2 separate regions of the Homo sapiens genome follow, and region 2 is linked to region 1. Evidence: fine-mapped expression QTL. Tissue or cell type: whole blood. Region 1 holds a variant in brackets; the other region holds the start of a gene. All regions are shown on one strand. Distances are from middle to middle.

Region 1 (8,048 bases):
ACTAACCATGAGCCCGCCATGTCTGCATCACGAGGACCACCCAGATGGCCAGCCCAAGAAAACCATCTTACTCTCCACCCTGCCACGTGCCTCAAATTCTGCCCCTCCGGATGCACAGGGGAAGGGCACACAAGACACAGCTGGGTACAGGTTTATTGTGGCACTGGAGGTGAAAGGGGGCTGGTGTGGCCAGCACCGGTGTGCTGTGGTGGTGGAGGGAGTGGGGTGGGAGGATAAGGTGGGTGGGGCAGGGCCCAGGGAGCCCCAGGCTCGGGCCAGGAGCCAGGGTTAAGGCAACCATTGCCAGCCCTACCCAGAAATGCAGGGCCACGACTCCAGGCCCCTCAGGCTAGGGGCCACCGCGGCAGCTGTGGGCAGAAGGGGCTCACACATGAGAGAAGGCATGGCTCTTGCAGAGAGGCCTGTCCTTCTTGGAGTAGAAGGTCTTTCCTTCCAGGTTGATCTGACATATCTAAGGACAGCAAAGGCCCAGTCACATGGGGTTGGGGGCAGCAGGAGAGGCCCCTTCCCAACTTCTCCTGCATCTCCTGGGGAATGAACAGAGGGCCGGTGGGCTTGGGGCTCAGTTCGAGGGGCGGGGCTCTCACCGCACAGACGAAGCAGGTGTCATGCCAGCTGAAGCCCAGGGCCTCCAGGAAGCGGTCCCCAGCGTCGATCTTGAAGTCACAGCCATGGCATTTCGTGCCAAACATCTTCTCATAGTCTGAGAATGGGGGCAGAGAGAAAGAGGACCTGGATTCATGCCTGCCCCATGCACCATCCCTCCTCACCCTCACTGGCCAGTGGGTACCTCGCTCGCAATAGGGCACGCCCTCCTCCATGTAGAAGGCCCTGTTCCGGATGGGCGTCTTGCAGGCAGCACAGGTAAAGCAGTGCACGTGCCAGGTCATCTTCAGGGCGTGCATGATCTCCTGGAAGGAGGTCCCAGTCACTCGGCAGGCTCAGGCCCCTCCTGCCCTGCCCTGGGTCACGGGAACACAGGAGGGCTGGCCGCAAGCCCTGTTCCTTCTCGCGGTAAACACTACATCTAACTGTTCAGGACTCCCACACCTCCATCTCCAACTCCAAGGTCTCTGAGTGGACGACCACTGCGCCTTCAGACTTGCCATGTCCAGCACTCAGTTCCTGATTCCCTCACCCCAAACCTCTCCTCCCACAGCCATCCCCATCACGCGGATGGCAACTCCATTCTCCTGTCTGCTGCAGCCAAACACACCCTCCTCTCACACCCCACACCAGGTCCACCAGGAAATCCAGTGGGGCCCACCCCCAAGGCACATCCAGATTCTGAGTGCTTCTCACAGCCTCCCTGAAGTGAGGTAAGCCATGGCCATCTGGCCCGTGGGACCACATAACAACTGGCCTACAAGCTCCTCTCTCTGATCCCAGCTGCCACAGCGTGCCCCTGCAACCCAAGACAGGCCTTCTCCCCCTGCATGAAACTGTGTACTGCTTCCCATTGCTCCCAGCAAGAGCCAAGCCCCATGCAGAGGCTGGAGGCCAGCAGGTCTGACCTCGTTCCCAACCGTCTCCGCCACTGCTCTCCCTTGCGTTCTCACCTTGCCTCTGCACACTGGCCTCTTGCCTGAAACTGGCACACCAGGCACACTCCTGTCCTGGGCTTGACACCGGCTGTCCCCTCTGCCTGGACTGCTCTGCCCCAGATATCTCTAGGCTCACCCCTCACCCCCTTCAAGTTTCTGCTCGAATGCAGTCTTCTCCATGAGGGCCCACTCTGACCACACCAGCAGCAGCCAGCTGCCTTCCCTGCACCACGCACCCCAGCACTTGTCGCTCTGCTCTTTCCTGTTTTCCGTAACGTGATCTAACATTACTTCCAGGCAACCTACTTATTGCGCTTATTGCTTACAGTCTGCCTCTCCCCTCTTCTTCCAGCCAAAATGTAAGGCCCAGAAGGGCAGGAAGCATCAACTGTTTTGTTAGCTGATCTATCCCCACAGTGCCTGGCCCTTTGTGGGTGAGTCGACTGGCCTCCGCAGGAGGTGGGAAGGGGCAGAGGCACAAGGGGCTGAGCTCTCCCTGGGCTGGGCTGTTCATCCCTAGGACCCTCGGGGCCAGCCGGGGCCAGCCAGGGCCAGCAGTATTCACATCTGGAGCAGGCAGAGGGCAGCATGGGGCCTCGAGGCGGTATGAGGGTCCAAGATGTGTGGGTCTGGCCAGACCTTGACCTTCTCAAGTCTTGGTTTCTTCCCTTGTGAACTGGGAAGCTAATCCCAGCCTTGTGAGGCTGTTATGAGGATGGCCCTGAGTTTAAATCCAGGGATCCCAGATCCAATCCCTGCAAGGGCCAAGTGGGGACTGTGTCACACGGAGGAGGACCTCTTCTTCTGGGAGCAGTACTACTGGTTCATTCAGGAATGCCTGCCTGGCTCAGGCTGAAATCTAGGTGTTAAAGAGAAATCTGCTGGGCGCAGTGGCTCACGTCTGTAATCCCAGTGCTTTGGGAGGCCAAGGTGGGAGGATCGCTCGAGGCCAGGAGTTCGAGACCAGCCTGGGCAACATAGCAAAACCTCATCTCTACAAAAAGATTTAAAAATCTGCTGAGCATGCTGGTGGGCACCTCTAGTCCTAGCTATTTGGGAGGCTGAGGTGGGAGGATCCTCTGAGCCCAGGAGATCAAGGCTGCAGTGAGCAGTGATCATGCCACTGCACTCCAGCCTGGGCAACAGAGCAAGACCCTATCATTATACATAAAGAAATAAAAAGCAGGAGATCTCACTTTCCCTCTGCCTCCCAAGTAGCTGGGACCACAGGTGCATGCCACCACACTTGGCTAATTTTCTAATTTTTTTTTTTTTGTAGAAACAGGGGTCTTGCTATGGTGCCCATGCTGGTCTTGAACTCCTGGGCTCAAGCAATCCTCCCACCTTGGCCTCCCAAAGTGCTGGGATTACAGGCATGAGCCACTGCATCATGCAGGCAAATCTTCTGATTTTTTAAATTGTTTGCTACTGATTTTAAAATGAAACAGTGTGGGCCAAGCAAGACATAAGTGTGGGGGACATGTAGCCTTCGGATGGTGCATTTCTGCCCTCCACAACACCTGTACCCCATCTTACATCTACCTTGCAACCGTGCCGGCCCTAGCATAGTGCCACCCTTCTCTTCAGTGAGGCCCAGAGAGAGCAACTAGCCCCTGCTCACACAGCCAGTAGATCACAGAAATAGGTTTTCTGCCCATGTCTGGCTGGCTCTTCTCACTGTCTGGTGTTGCCTGTTTTAGAGGAGCAGACAAGGTCACAGTGAAGGAACTTGGGCTTTGAGCTGGTGGGAGAGGGGGCTCTACCAGGGGTGTGGGCTGGTAGGGCAGGAGCCCAAGGCTGGGAGGCAGATTTCTCTTTCTTTTTTTCTTTTTGAGACAAGAGTCTCGCTCTGTCGCCCAGGCTGGAGTGCAGTGGCGCGATCTCGGCTCACTGCAAGCTCTGCCTCCCAGGTTCACGCCATTCTCCTGCCTCAGCCTCCCGAGTAGCTGGGACTACTCCACCATGCCCGGCCAATTTTTTTGTATTTTTAGTAGAGATGGGGTTTCACCGTGTTAGCCAGGATGGTCTCAATCTCCTGACCTCGTGATCCGCCCATCTCGGCCTCCCAAAGTGCTGGGATTACAGGTGTGAGCCACCGTGCCTGGCCCTTTTTTTTTTTTTTTTTTTTTTTTTTTTTTTTTTTTGCTGTCTCCCAGGCTGGAAGGCAGTGGCACAATCTTGGCTCACTGCAACCTCCACCTCTCAAGATCAAGCGATTCTCCTGCCTCAGCCTCCCAAGTAGCTGGGACTACAGGTGCGCCAGCACACCCAGCTAATTTTTTTATTTTTAGTAGAGACAGGGTTTCACCATATTGGCCAGGCTGGTCTTGAACTCCTGACCTCAGGTGATCTGCCCACCTCGACCTCCCAAAGTGCTGGGATACAAGCATCAGCCACTGCATCGGCCACTCTCCCATTCTTGCCGACTGATGGAACCCCCAGTTTTGCTGGACACATGGGTGCCCAAAATAAAGACTATATTTCCCAGCCTCCGTTGCCACTGGGTGTGGTCATGTGACTGGGTTCTGACCAACAGGATGAAAGCAGAGGTTCAGGTGGCAGCATCCTCTAAGGATGGACGCCATGGGGCTCTGTCCCCTTTCTTCTCCTTCCGACTTCCTGCTGGCTGGAAGGTGAGCATTTTGGCGGAGGCTGAAGTGTCATCTTGCACCATGAGTGGTAAGTAAGCAGGTGCTGCCAACAGTCAAGCAACAAGGCGGAGCCTGGGTCCACCAGATCAGTCCCAGACCACCCACCCCGGGATGTTTTTAGATGAGAAATAAGCCACCATTATTTTGAGTTTCCCACTGCTCGTGGTCAAGGTAAACCTCACTAATATGAACATCACCACACAGAGCTCTCTGGCTACTCCTGGCAGCCCTGGCTCTGGATCCAGAAATGAGGAGGACGCATGAGACAGAGCAGCTTCAGCGTGTCAAGTTGGCCGTTCTGTCATTTCACCAGGGCAGGGAGAGCCCAAAGTGGGAGTCAGGAGGGCCCAGGGCTTCTCCTGGCTTGGTCCTCCTGCTCTTTGCAGCCTTGGGCGGTTTCTGAGCAGGAACATGGTCATTTGTTAAGAGCATCCTGACTAATGCAGGGTGAGGCCAGTACAGCAG[C/G]CCATTTATTACGCTGGTAAGGACCCGGAGGGCTCACTCGGGGAGAGACCTGGACTGTGGGTTTCCCAGCAGCCCTCGTTCCCACTGACAGGCTTGGGACCACCTCCCCGCCAGCCAGCCCTACTCACGCCTGTAATCTTCTTCTTGCACTTGGCACAGCTGGGTGCATAGCGCACGTCATAGCATGGTGGGCAGAAGATGGCGCCCTTCTCCTCAAAGAAGCCACCCTCTTCCAGGACCTTCCCACACTGGCTACACACAAACTCCTCCGGGTGGTACGCGTGGCCCAGCGCCACCAGGTAGCGGCCCCTGCAGGGAGGCGAGAGCGGTCAGAGGGAGCACACGCAGAGAGGTGGGGGTCTTGGCCCCCTTCAGGTTGACTGACCACCCACCAGGAGGCCTTGGGAGGGACAGTTCATTCTCCCCATTTTCCACATAGGATAGAAGACAGGCTTGGGAAGTGACCGTGGCAGCCGTGAAGCTTACAGAGCCAGTCCGCCACACTGAACTGCTGGTGACAGGAGAGGCAGCTTTAGAGCAGGGAGGACCCCGGGAGGAAGGGCTGACGACTGGAGCCTCATAAAAGCTGAGCCGCCCCTGGGCAAACCCTGGAGCTGCCCTGTCCTGCTGGCCTGCCTGTTCTACCTGGCAAGAGCTGATAGAGTCGGCTGGGCACAGTGGCTCACACCTGTAGTCCCAGCACTTTGGGAGGCCAAGGCAGGCCTGAGATCACCTGAGGTGAGGAGTTTGAGACCAGCCTGGCCAACATGGTAAAACCCCGTCTCTACTAAAAATACAAAATTAGCCAGGCATGGTGGCGGGTGCCTGTAATCCCAGCTACTCAGGAGGCTGAGGCAGGAGAATCTCTTGAACCCAGGAGGCAGAGGTTGCAGTGAGCCGAGATCGCGCCACTGCACGCCAACGTGGGCAACACAGTGAGACTCTGTTTCAAAAAAAAAAAAAAAAGAGCTGACAGAGATGAGAGCAGGCCAGGCCTGCGAATTAGGAAGGCTCTAGAATCCGGCACGCTGATGCTGGGGGGTGTTTGATGCTGCTTGGCCCCACGGGGCAGTGCACAGAGGGAGTGGCTCCAGGCCTGTATGCTCTGAGAGCAGAGGGAGACAGAGAGCAGGAGGGAGGGGCAGACGCGCTGGGAGGGGGCAGGCCCCTCTTTGCCCAGAGAGCAGCAAAGGTAGGGGTGCAGCTTCAGCCTATGGTTGGCCCTTCGGCTATTTCGCCACGGCAGATGCTGCTAGCAGTTGTTGTGGGTGGGCTGGGGTAGGTAGCGTGGGATTAAGAATGGGAGGACCCAGCCCAGGTCCCTACTCCTACTCCAGCTGAGAACTGAATCCTTATTCCCCCCAGTCGCAGCTGAGGCAAGACAGGTGGGCAGACAGGTGGGGCTGGGCTGCAGGATGGGAAAGCCAGGGTCGGACAGGAACAGGCCACCCACCGGATGACCTTGTGGCACTGGTGACACACGGGAGTCTTGCCGTTGTTGCTGCCCCCTCCTGGCACCCCTCCGGCAGCTGCCTGCACAATGGAGGTGCGGCTCTGCAGCGGCGTGGGCGTGGCCGGCTGGCTGTGCCGGGTCAGCACTGTGCTCGTTTTGTCCGGGGCATAGCGCTCGGCAAACGCAGGGTCCACAGCCCAGGGCGGGCGGCTGGTAGGGCTGGGGGCGGTAGGGCCTGCCGGGGAAAGTGACTCTAAAGGGGTGCCCAGGGACCCCAAAGGACGGGGGTGGAGCCCCAGGCAGCTGAGAGAAGCCCACCACCCCCATGCCCCTGGAGGCTGCCCACCCTTGCCCAGGCCCGAGCCCACTCCCTCTCACCAGGCCAGGGCTCCTGGGGTGTAGATGAGGCTGGGGCTGGGGCTTCTGTCCTGGGCACCTGGCTGCAAGATCTGCCATTCAAGGCCCTGCATGGCTGAGCTTCCTGACATGGCCCCACCCCCCAACCTGGGTCCTGCTGGCCCCACGGGAGATGACTGGGGGCGTGGAAACTGCCGAGTTGGATTCCAGGTCCCACTGGGGTAGGGATGGGAAGGGCAGCTTCTCCTAGCAATGTCCAGTTAGCTGGTGTGCGGTCTCTAGCTGGGAGACGAGGCAGGGCTCCCGCTTCTGAGGCAGCTCCTGGGGTTCCCCTCATGCCAGGAAGCCATCTGTGATGGCAGGGCAGGGCCCCTTTGCCAGGTACCCCCTCCCACTGAAAACGAGGACGGCAGGGCCCAAACAGTCCGAACCACGAAACACCCCCACACCCCAAATGCAAACCAGGTCCACAAAGATAGAAGACAGGCAGAGCAAGCAGGGCTGAGAATGTTTATTCCATGCCCAAGGCAGCACAGACCTGGCAGACAGCAGTACCACAGGGCAAAGAGGGAAGGCAGTGTCAGATGAACCCAGGTGGGCGGCCAGGGCCAGGCCAGCAGGAGGCTCAGGCCAGGGGCACGAAAGGGGGGGTGAGGTAGGCAGAAGCTGGAGGCACTAAGGGGGTGCCCTGGGCAGGAGGAACAGAAAGAGGGAGGCAGAGAGGGCAGCCGGCTGGAGAGGGCCGGGCTACGACTGCACGTTGAGCACGTGGGCAGAGCGCTGGTGGTGCCAGTCCCGGAGGCGGGTGTAGCGTGGGCTCTGCAGCTCCAGGACATACTTTTCCCTGAGGGGCAGAGAGAGAGGGAGGAAGAAGTGGAAGGAAGGAGAGATGGAAGGGAGGCAGGGAGGGAGGAGGGAAGGAAGGAGGGAGGGAAGAAATGAAAGAAGGAAGGAAGGAGGAAGGGAAGGAAGGAAGGAAGGAAGGAAGGAAGGAAGGAAGGAAGGAAGGAAGGAAGGGAGAATTGAGAGCCCCAGCTGGGAGCCTCAGGAGTAGACACAGGGCAGTAGCTGGAATGGAAGAGGCAGGAGGTGGGAGAGGGGCTGGTGCCCGTCCCTGTACCTTGATTTCTTCAGGTGCTCCTCATCCGGGTCTTGCACTGAGAGGGCAGAGGCAGGCATTGACCAAAAAAGACACAGGGTCAGGGATCACGCCTGGGCTGGGGGCGAGGAAAGTACCCCCTGCCCTGGGCTGGCACTTACTGAACTCGGTGCCTGTGAGGTGGGCAAGGATGCGGAAGGAACGCGACTGGCCTGTCCCCGGCCGCGGCCGCCAGTCCTCTGTGTTCTCCATCAGCCGCTGCTTGCTGGCATCTGGGACCAGCGGTCGGAGCGGCTGTCTGTGGGGAGGGTGTGGCTCAGAACCCCACACTGGGGGTGGGCGGTGGGGGCAGCCCCTCCCAGGATTTGGTGCATGTGGGTTTGGGTTACAGTGATGGGAGGGAGTGGGTAAGGGTGAGGCCAGGAGCCCTGCTGGGCGGGTAGGTGAGAGGACAGGAG
Region 2 (8,049 bases), 22 kb after region 1:
CTAGCACCACCCTGGCCCATAGCAACACAGCCGGGTCAAATGCCACAGCTTCCTCACCAGGCTCCTTGCTCCTGTCAACTGCCTTTTTTTTTGACATGGAGTCTTGCTCTGTCACCCATACTTGAGTGCAATGGCGAGATCTCGGCTGACTGCAATTTCCGCCTCCCGGGTTTGTTTTTTTTCTTTAAGATGGAGTCTCACTCTTGTCGCCCAGGCTGGAGTGCAGTGGCGCGATCTTGGCTCACTGCAAGCTCCGCCTCCCAGGTTCACGCCATTCTCCTGCCTCAGCCTCCCAAGTAGCTGGGACTACAGGTGCCCGCCACCAGGCCTGGCTAATTTTTTTTGTATTTTTAGTAGAGATGGGGTTTCACCATGTTAGCCAGGATGATCTCGATCTCCTGACCTCATGATCCGCCTGTCTCGGCCTCCCAAAGTGCTGGGATTACAGGCATGAGCCACCGCGCCCAGCCCGCCTCCCGGGTTTAAGTGATTCTCCTGCCTCAGTCTCCCAAGTAGCTGGGATTACAGGTGCCCACCACCATGCCTGGCTAATTTTTTGTATTTTTAGTAGAGACAGGGTTTTACCATATTGGGCAGGCTGGTCTCGAACTCCTGACCTCAGGTGATCCACGTGCTTCGGCTTCCCAAAGTGCTGGGATTACAGGCACGAACCTCCATGCCTAACCTCAACTGCCTTTTGTTTTTTGATTTTTAAAATATGATAAAATACAGAGAACATAAAATTTACTGTTTTAACCATCTTACTTTTTTTTTTTTTTTTGAGACAAAGTCTTGCTCTGTCGGCCAGGCTGGAATGCAGTGGTGCGATCTAAGCTCACTGCAACCTCTGCCTCCCAGACTCAAGCAATTCTGCTGCCTCAGCCTCTCAAGTAGTAGCTGGGATTACAGGCGTGTGCCACCACACCCAGCTAATTTTTGTAATTTTTTTTTAGTAGAGATAGGGTTTCACCATGTTGGCCAGGCTGGTCTCGAACTCCTGACCTCAGGTAATCCGCCTGCCTCGGCCTCCCAAAGTGCTGGGATTACAGGTGTGAACCACTACGCCCGGCCCATTTTACATCTTAAAGTGTATCATCAGTGCTCTTTTTTTTCTTTTCTTTTTTTTTTTTTTTTTTTTGAGACGGAGTTTTGCTCTCGTTGCCCAGGCTGGAGTGCAATGGCATGATCTCGGCTCACCGCAACCTCTGCCTCCCAGGTTCAAGCAATTCTGCCTGCCTCAGCCTCCCGAGTAGCTGGCATTACAGGCATGCACCACCATGCCCAGCTACTTCTGTATTTTTAGTAGAGACGGGGTTTCTCCATGTTGAGGCTGGTCTCGAACTTCTGACCTCAGGTGATCCGCCCGCCTCGGCCTCCCAAAGTGCTGGGATTATAGGCCTGAGCCACCGCACCCGGCCACCAGTGCTTTTTAGTATACTCACAAGGCTGTGCACTGTTGCCACTGTCTAGTTCCAGAACTTTTCCATCATCCCACATGGAAGCCCTGTACCCATGAGCAGCCACTCCCCACTTCTCCCTTCCTCCAGCTCCTGCCAACACTCATCTGATTTCTATCCCAATGGAGTTACCTTGTCTGTACATTTCTTTCTTTCTTCTTTTCTTTTTTTTTTTTGAGACAGGGTCTCACTATGTTGCCCAGGCTGATCTTGAATTCCTAGGCTCAAGCAATCCTCCTACCTCAGCCTCCCAAAGTGCTAAGATTACAGGCAAGAGCTACTGTGCCAGGCGTTTGTTTGTTTTTATGGCTGAGTAGTATTCCATCTTGCGGACGGACCACGTTTTGCTTATCCATTTGTCAGCTGATGGCCATGTAGGCTGTTTCCACCTTCTGGTGGCTGTGAGTAGTGCTGCTATGGACGTTCATGTCCATGTGGGTTTTTTTTTAAGATAGGGTCTTGCTCTGTCTCCCGGGCTGGAGTGAAGTGGCACGATTACAGCTCACTGCAGCCTCGACCTCTGGGGCTCATGCGATCCTCCTGCCTCACATGTACATGTTTTGTTTGAACACCTGTTCAAGTTCTCTTGGGCACACACCTAGGAGTGGACCTGTGGGCCACATGGTAACTCTGTTTACCTCTTTGAAGAACCCCCAGGCTCACTTCCTTTTGACCCATCACAGACCTTTTGGGGCTTTACAAACATGTCCGGCTTAAACCCTCCAAAGCCTTCGCCTCTCACTCAGAACAAAACCACACACATGGCCTAGGGCATTTCAGCCGCTCTCCTAAGCTCTGTGAGTTGGCTTCCTCCTGCACTCCTTTCCTTCCAGCCACGTCGCCTTCTTTCTGCCCTTAAACACCCCACACTGTCCGGCCTCGGGGCCTCTGCCCACGGGACTCCCTCTGTTCACAACTCCCCAGGCTGCCCCTGTCCTCAGACCTTTGCCCAGTGGGTTCCTGTCATTCAGGGCCCTCCTCTGAGAGGCCTTCCCTGGCCACCCTGCCCGTCGCTCCCTCACTTCCTCCTGCTCCCCTGGCGGTCCATTTTCTCCATGGCACGCACGGCCCTCTGAGAGTCATTATAGATTTACTTTTCCCAGGCTTGTAGGTGCTCGGTGGAGCTTGCTGGGTGATGGGATGTGAGCGTGGAGGTGGACAAGTCGGGGGCAGGTGCCCCAGCCCAATCGCCCCCCTGCTCGCCGCACTCACCGGGAAGGCCAGCTGGCAGATGGGGCCCATCCAGGCCTGGCGGTGCTGAGCAGCCAGTAGATGGCTTCGCTCGGTGGTGGTGAGCAGGAAGGCACCGGTGTCCCGGGGGCAGCTCTCGCCGTCAGCCGGCAGCACGGACACACAGTCAGCCAGGCGGATGACCCGTCGCTCCCCTCGCCGGCCAGGCCCTGCCGACCTGTCACCCGCTGCTCCCAGGCCACCATCCCGGACCTCCCAGCTCTCCAGCCGTGCCACGCCTGATGGGCCTCCTGCATACAGCAGAGCCCACACCTTCCGCCAGCACTTCTGCGGGAGGGGAGCGGGAGGGTGAAGACCCTTGGGTGGCAGATTGTCCGTGCCACTTGGCTCAGCACAAGCTGCTCGGCAAACGCTCCCAGCCAGGAGCGGGCCTCTGCTCCCCAGTTTCTCAGGGAGCCAGGTAAGGAGGCCTTGGCTATGCTTGGGATTGGTCAGCCCTGGGTTCAAATCCCAGCCCGCTCTTTCCTAACTGTGACCTCCACAAGCATCAATGTCGTCTCTCAAAAGGCCATGAGAACTCGAGCTGGGACTGCTACTGGGTCATGTTTGTAAAGCATCCAGTGGCCGGGCAGACCACCAGACACTGCCATTATATTGGTTCCCTCTCACCCCCAAAAAGGGGCACTTGGGCCACAGGCCAAGAGCTGGGGTGGGAGGGAGGCCTCTGCCTCAAGCTGTTAAGGAAGGAAACATGCAAATAGCTTCGAGCAAAGGAAACTGACGGTTTATCTGCCTGGGCAGCAGCTGCAGCTGAGCTGCGGGGGTGTGGGGCTGCTGCCGAGGAGAGGTGACCCCCTGCCTCCTTGCTCCCAGGACAGTGCCGCTGCAGGGAGGGGCTCCACCCTTGAGGCCTCCTCCAGCTCAGCCCCTCACCCTATTTAGGGCCCTCGGTGGCACTATTTCATGGGTCAGAGGCTGTGAAGCTCTTCCCTGCTGGGAGGTTTGAGCCTTCGACCCTCTCCCACTCCTGTATTTCCCATCTCTCCCGGAGGCAGGGTCTGGCAGAGCCTGCTCAGCCCCTGCCGTCTCAGGCTGACACCCGCACTCCATTCCACTCCCCATACCTGGGTGGGATCCTCCACCCTGACTCCCTTCCCAAGTCTCCCAGGTCTGCCTGGGCTGTCCGAGGCAGGGGCAGAGGCTGCATTCTCCACCCACTGTTGGTCCTTGGCAGCTGCCTGGCAGCCAGGGGTCCCCACCTTGCCAAACTTGACATGCTGCTGGTAGAGGATGCCATCCTTGATAGGGGTCTCCAGAGGGTCCATGGTCACGGCCAGGAGCAGGGCCGCCGCTTCAAGACCTGGGGAGACTGATGACAGGCTGGACGGGAACTCCTCACACTTCCCCTTCTGGCCACTTCCCGTCCCTCCGTCTAGAGACAGCTGCAGGCCGGGGGGAGGGGAGCCTGTCTTCAGCTCAGGGGCTGGGGGCAGCATGTATTTCCTCCCTGGGGTTCTGGCTGCCCAAGGTGCCCACACCTACCTGGAGGGAGCCCCCGGCCACCTGAAGGCAGCCTTCTCACGCACCTGGTTCAGCTGGGCACGCGCGTCTGATCGCAGTCTGGCTCCCCGAGTCATGAGTTCCCGCCCCTCCCCCGTCCCGCCCCGGGCAGCTGCGCACCCTGGGCCTGACACTCCCTGGCCCTGCCTCCACCCAGGACCCTTCTCTAGCCAACTCCTGGCTTTCCCACTCGGCGTCCTGGTTTGAGCGCCTCACCCCATCTTGCTGCTTTTCTTTCTCCCTGAAATCTCTCTCGTGTTCACCTGCTCCTCTCCACCTCACGAGCCACTGAACATCACCAGCCTTTGGCATCCCCCCAGGGGCCACTGCCCCACTGGGCCTCCATGCAGCACTCTCCACAACCCAAGACCAACCTGTCTCTCCCCTTCCTGGGGTGCAGCCCAGGCTCCTCAGCCCAACACTCAGGGACCTGTGTGTTCTGGCCTGCATCTCCCCCAGGCCAGCCCCTCCAGGGCCCCCTCACCACTGTGCTGCCTGGGGCGGTTGGCCACCTCTTCCTCCTGGAGGCCTCCCTTGACCACTCCACGCTGTCCGAGAGCTCAAAGGCCCTCACGGTATACACTCACGCTGGGCATCCAGTCCACATGGGACCCACAGCCCTGAATGGCCCCAACCACGTGAGTGTGGGTGGCAGGTCCCAGGGGGCCCCGGAGAGGTCACATGTTCATTTAAAGCTTTGCTTCCTGCTGGGGGCGCCTTTTGTTGGCTTGCCTAGCAAGATGCCAATAGCGGGGCTGTGTGTATACCTTTATTCTGGAACAGCCTCAGGTCATTCAGCACCACCTCTGGGAGAGAACATGGAAGAGGATAAGGAATGCCATTTGGGAATGCACTTGGCCAGGAAATATGTCCTGAAGGCCTCCTGGCACCCAGCTCTGTGCCCACTGTGGCCCAAGCAGCCCTAAGCTCCGTCCACCTCAGACGCCACATCCTTTGCGTTCTCATCGCCATTTCAACAGTGAGGAAATCGGTGCTCAGAAAAATTAAGTAACTTGCCCAATGCCACATATCAAGTGACAAATATGGCTTGAGCAACCGCTGTCTCACTGGAATGAGCATGTGGCCATACATGCAAAGTGCCTGGCTCAGAGGAAGTGTGGCCGCCTGTGCCGTCCCTGCCTACCTCTCACCAGATGCTGAGATCCTGCCTCATCTGCTAGCGGTCTTGTGACTGCCGTCCACGTTTCTGCGTGTGCGTCTTTCTCTCCCCTCGCCTGACGGCTTCCCAGGCAGCCATCTCCCTGGCCCATCTAGGTCCTCACAGCTCAGCAGAGCTGGGCACAGAGCAGGCTTAGGGAGAGCTTGTGGCCTAAATGGCAGTTCTATGACATCTGCTGCCTCCTCAGTCAACGGAATGGAGGGCTCCCTCCAGGTGGCTGGCACAGGCAGGCAGTGGGTGGGGGTCCTGAGGCAAGAAGCAGCCTCCCAAGGGGCTTCAGGAGAAGTCCCTGAAACATCACAGCCCTGACAGGAAGAGTGGGCCTGAGAGCTATGACAGCTGGCCAGGGAGACCAGAGAATCCAAGCACTTCTCCTTGGCCCGCCAATGTGGTCCCTCCTTGAGTCATAAATTCAGACAACCCAGTGGAGAGACCCAGAGTCCCCAGAGGCGGGCACCAGCTCGGTGGCTCCTTCCACAGCCAAGTACCAGCAGGCCAGGTGTTGGCAGTGCTAGTGGGAGATGCTGGGGCCTTGCCTCAGAGGGGCTCCAGAGGTCAGAGGTGACGTCTGTCCAGGAACCAGGGGGCGGATGAGGTGAAACACAGAGGCAGGGCCAGGGCTGGGCTAGAGGTTTGGGCTTTAATGGCAGCTGGGGTAAAAGGAAACAAAAACAGTAATTCTGAAGAGCACAGGGAACAGGCAGCCAGGACCAGCCTGGCCCATCCCAGGCCAGCTGAGCTGAAATGCTGATTCTGTCCAGGGGGCTGCTGTATGTGTAGACTGGTGGCAGTCTTGGGGACTGAGGCCTCTTGGAGAGAAGGGAAGACTGTCGGCTCAGAAGTCCATGGAGCTGTGGGCCAGGTAGTCCTTGCGACCGATGTTGCTGACCTGCTTGGTCTGCATAGCCTCGAGTTTGGGGCAGTCAGTGATCCGATGACCCAGGCCCCCGCAGAAGGCACAGCCGCGCTCTCCTGGGGGAATGGGGACAGGGGTCAGCCAAGTCAAGGACCAGGATCCATGCCCTGGACTTCGGGCCCCCCGTTAGGCACCCTCGGTCCACCGGTTTCACGTTTCTGACTTCCAGCACCCCTCCTTGCCACCTGCCGGCTGGGGACTCGGGGATCCCGCTCTGCAGTCACCTCCAATGTCCAGCATGGACTCATCCCCGCAATGCAGCACCTGCAGCACGGGCGGCACCTTCTGCTTGGCTTCTAGCAGCAGCGCTTTGAGGTCCATCAGCACTGACTCATCTGGGGGAGGAGTGGGGAAGCATCAGGGCCCATCCTGGGCTCTGTGGCCAGAACCTGGGTGGCCACAGGCAGGGGACCCAGGGAACAGCTAAGGTGGCGCTGGTAACAGACTCACCACACGCTTTGTTGATGAAGGTAGTGGCGATGCCTGTGTTTCCCGAGCGCCCGGTGCGGCCAATCCGGTGTACTGCAGAGAGAAGGACAGAGTCTCTGGCCCATCGCTGGACACTAGGGGCCTGGCTTGGCCCTTTTCCGGCCTAACCCATGCCCTTGGGCCCCAGGCTCTTACCATAGTTCTCAATCTCCTCTGGCATGTCATAATTGATGACGTGCTGGATGGCAGGGAAGTCCAGGCCCTTGGAGGCAACGTCTGTGGCTACTAGGACATCCTTCTTGCCCTCCCGGAATGCCTCGATGGCCTTAGTCCGTTCCTCCTGGTCTGGGGAGGGTCAGGCAGACACTGTCAGAGCCACCATGGGACAGGGGAGTGGCAGGCCAACCAGGCAGGGGAAGGCATTAGGTAAAGCACTGCTACTGCAGCAGGGTCCAAGCCAGTGCTTGCACCACCCTGACCTTTGCCCCCATGGATGGCTACGGCCTCAACCCCCTTGAGCAGCAGGTACTCGTGGATGGCGTCCACGTCTGCCTTCTTCTCTGCAAAGATGAGTACCTGTCCGGAAAGACCAACTCCAGTCAGGGGCTAACTGCCTGGGCACCCACCGCACCTCCCCTGGCACTCTGTCCCCTCCAAAGCCCTCCCTGGTCCTGGGGACTCTGGCCCCGGCCTGGCCTGGCTGCACTCACAGGCGGGGGTGTCTTCTGCAGGCACTCGAGCAGGTACACCATCTTGGCCTCCTCCTTCACATATTCTACCTCCTGCCACCACAAAGATCAGGTCAGGTGATCTTGAGATTAGGCTTACCCGCCACAGCCCTGCCATGGCCCGTCATCTGGACCAGGAGGTGACCAGAAGCCTCTGGCCGCCAAGGGCTGGTGCCCTAAAAATGGCCCTGGTTAAGCGTCAGGGGCTTTGAATGAAACCCCCGGTTCCCACAAGGTGGACCCCCGGCTCCAATCAGCTTCAGGGAGACTTGTCAGATCCAGCCCCCACAGGTGAGAGACCGCCCATCAGGAGCACCTGCCCACCTGGATGACATCCAGGCTGGCAGCCCCAGCGCGCCCCACATTGATGGTCACAGGCTTTACAAGGGCACTCTTAGCAAAGTTCTGAATCTTCTTCGGCATGGTGGCACTGAAGAGCAGGGTCTGTCGCTGGCCCTGAGGAAGAGGGGGGCTGCGACCAAGGGCACACAGGGCTGGGCTGAGGGGCATGGGGTCTGGGGAAGCTGAGCAACTGAGACACAGCCCACAAAGTATGAGCAGTGGGTTGGGGTGGCCAGGGGCATGGGG

The links. PIP is the estimated chance that this variant, and not a neighbour inherited with it, causes the effect.
Region 2: it holds the start of DOK3, and the variant in region 1 is fine-mapped to the expression of DOK3 in whole blood (TOPMed, PIP 0.93).

The regions. Positions count from the first base shown.
Region 1 is chr5:177,483,259-177,491,306 of GRCh38, forward strand. It overlaps PDLIM7 (PDZ and LIM domain 7), which reads right to left. Exons shown (of 13, transcript NM_005451.5): 6 at 7,752-7,888; 7 at 7,612-7,648; 8 at 6,513-6,574; 9 at 6,135-6,369; 10 at 4,810-4,990; 11 at 812-932; 12 at 609-724; 13 at 136-472. The coding sequence ends at 386. Among named protein-coding and RNA genes, the nearest start is that of PDLIM7, 10 kb to the right of the region's middle. RefSeq lists enhancers at 758-1,473, 1,474-2,189, 7,516-8,048. The variant C/G (reference allele first, on the strand shown) is at 4,682.
Region 2 is chr5:177,505,568-177,513,616 of GRCh38, forward strand. DOK3 (docking protein 3) reads right to left here and starts at 4,259. Exons shown (of 6, transcript NM_001308236.3): 1 at 4,191-4,259; 2 at 3,908-4,090; 3 at 2,670-2,975. The coding sequence starts at 3,973. DDX41 (DEAD-box helicase 41) reads right to left here. Exons shown (of 17, transcript NM_016222.4): 11 at 7,786-7,917; 12 at 7,444-7,515; 13 at 7,213-7,309; 14 at 6,929-7,078; 15 at 6,755-6,826; 16 at 6,529-6,639; 17 at 6,010-6,360. The coding sequence ends at 6,224. RefSeq lists enhancers at 2,515-2,624, 2,645-2,694, 4,515-4,664 and a silencer at 4,245-4,384.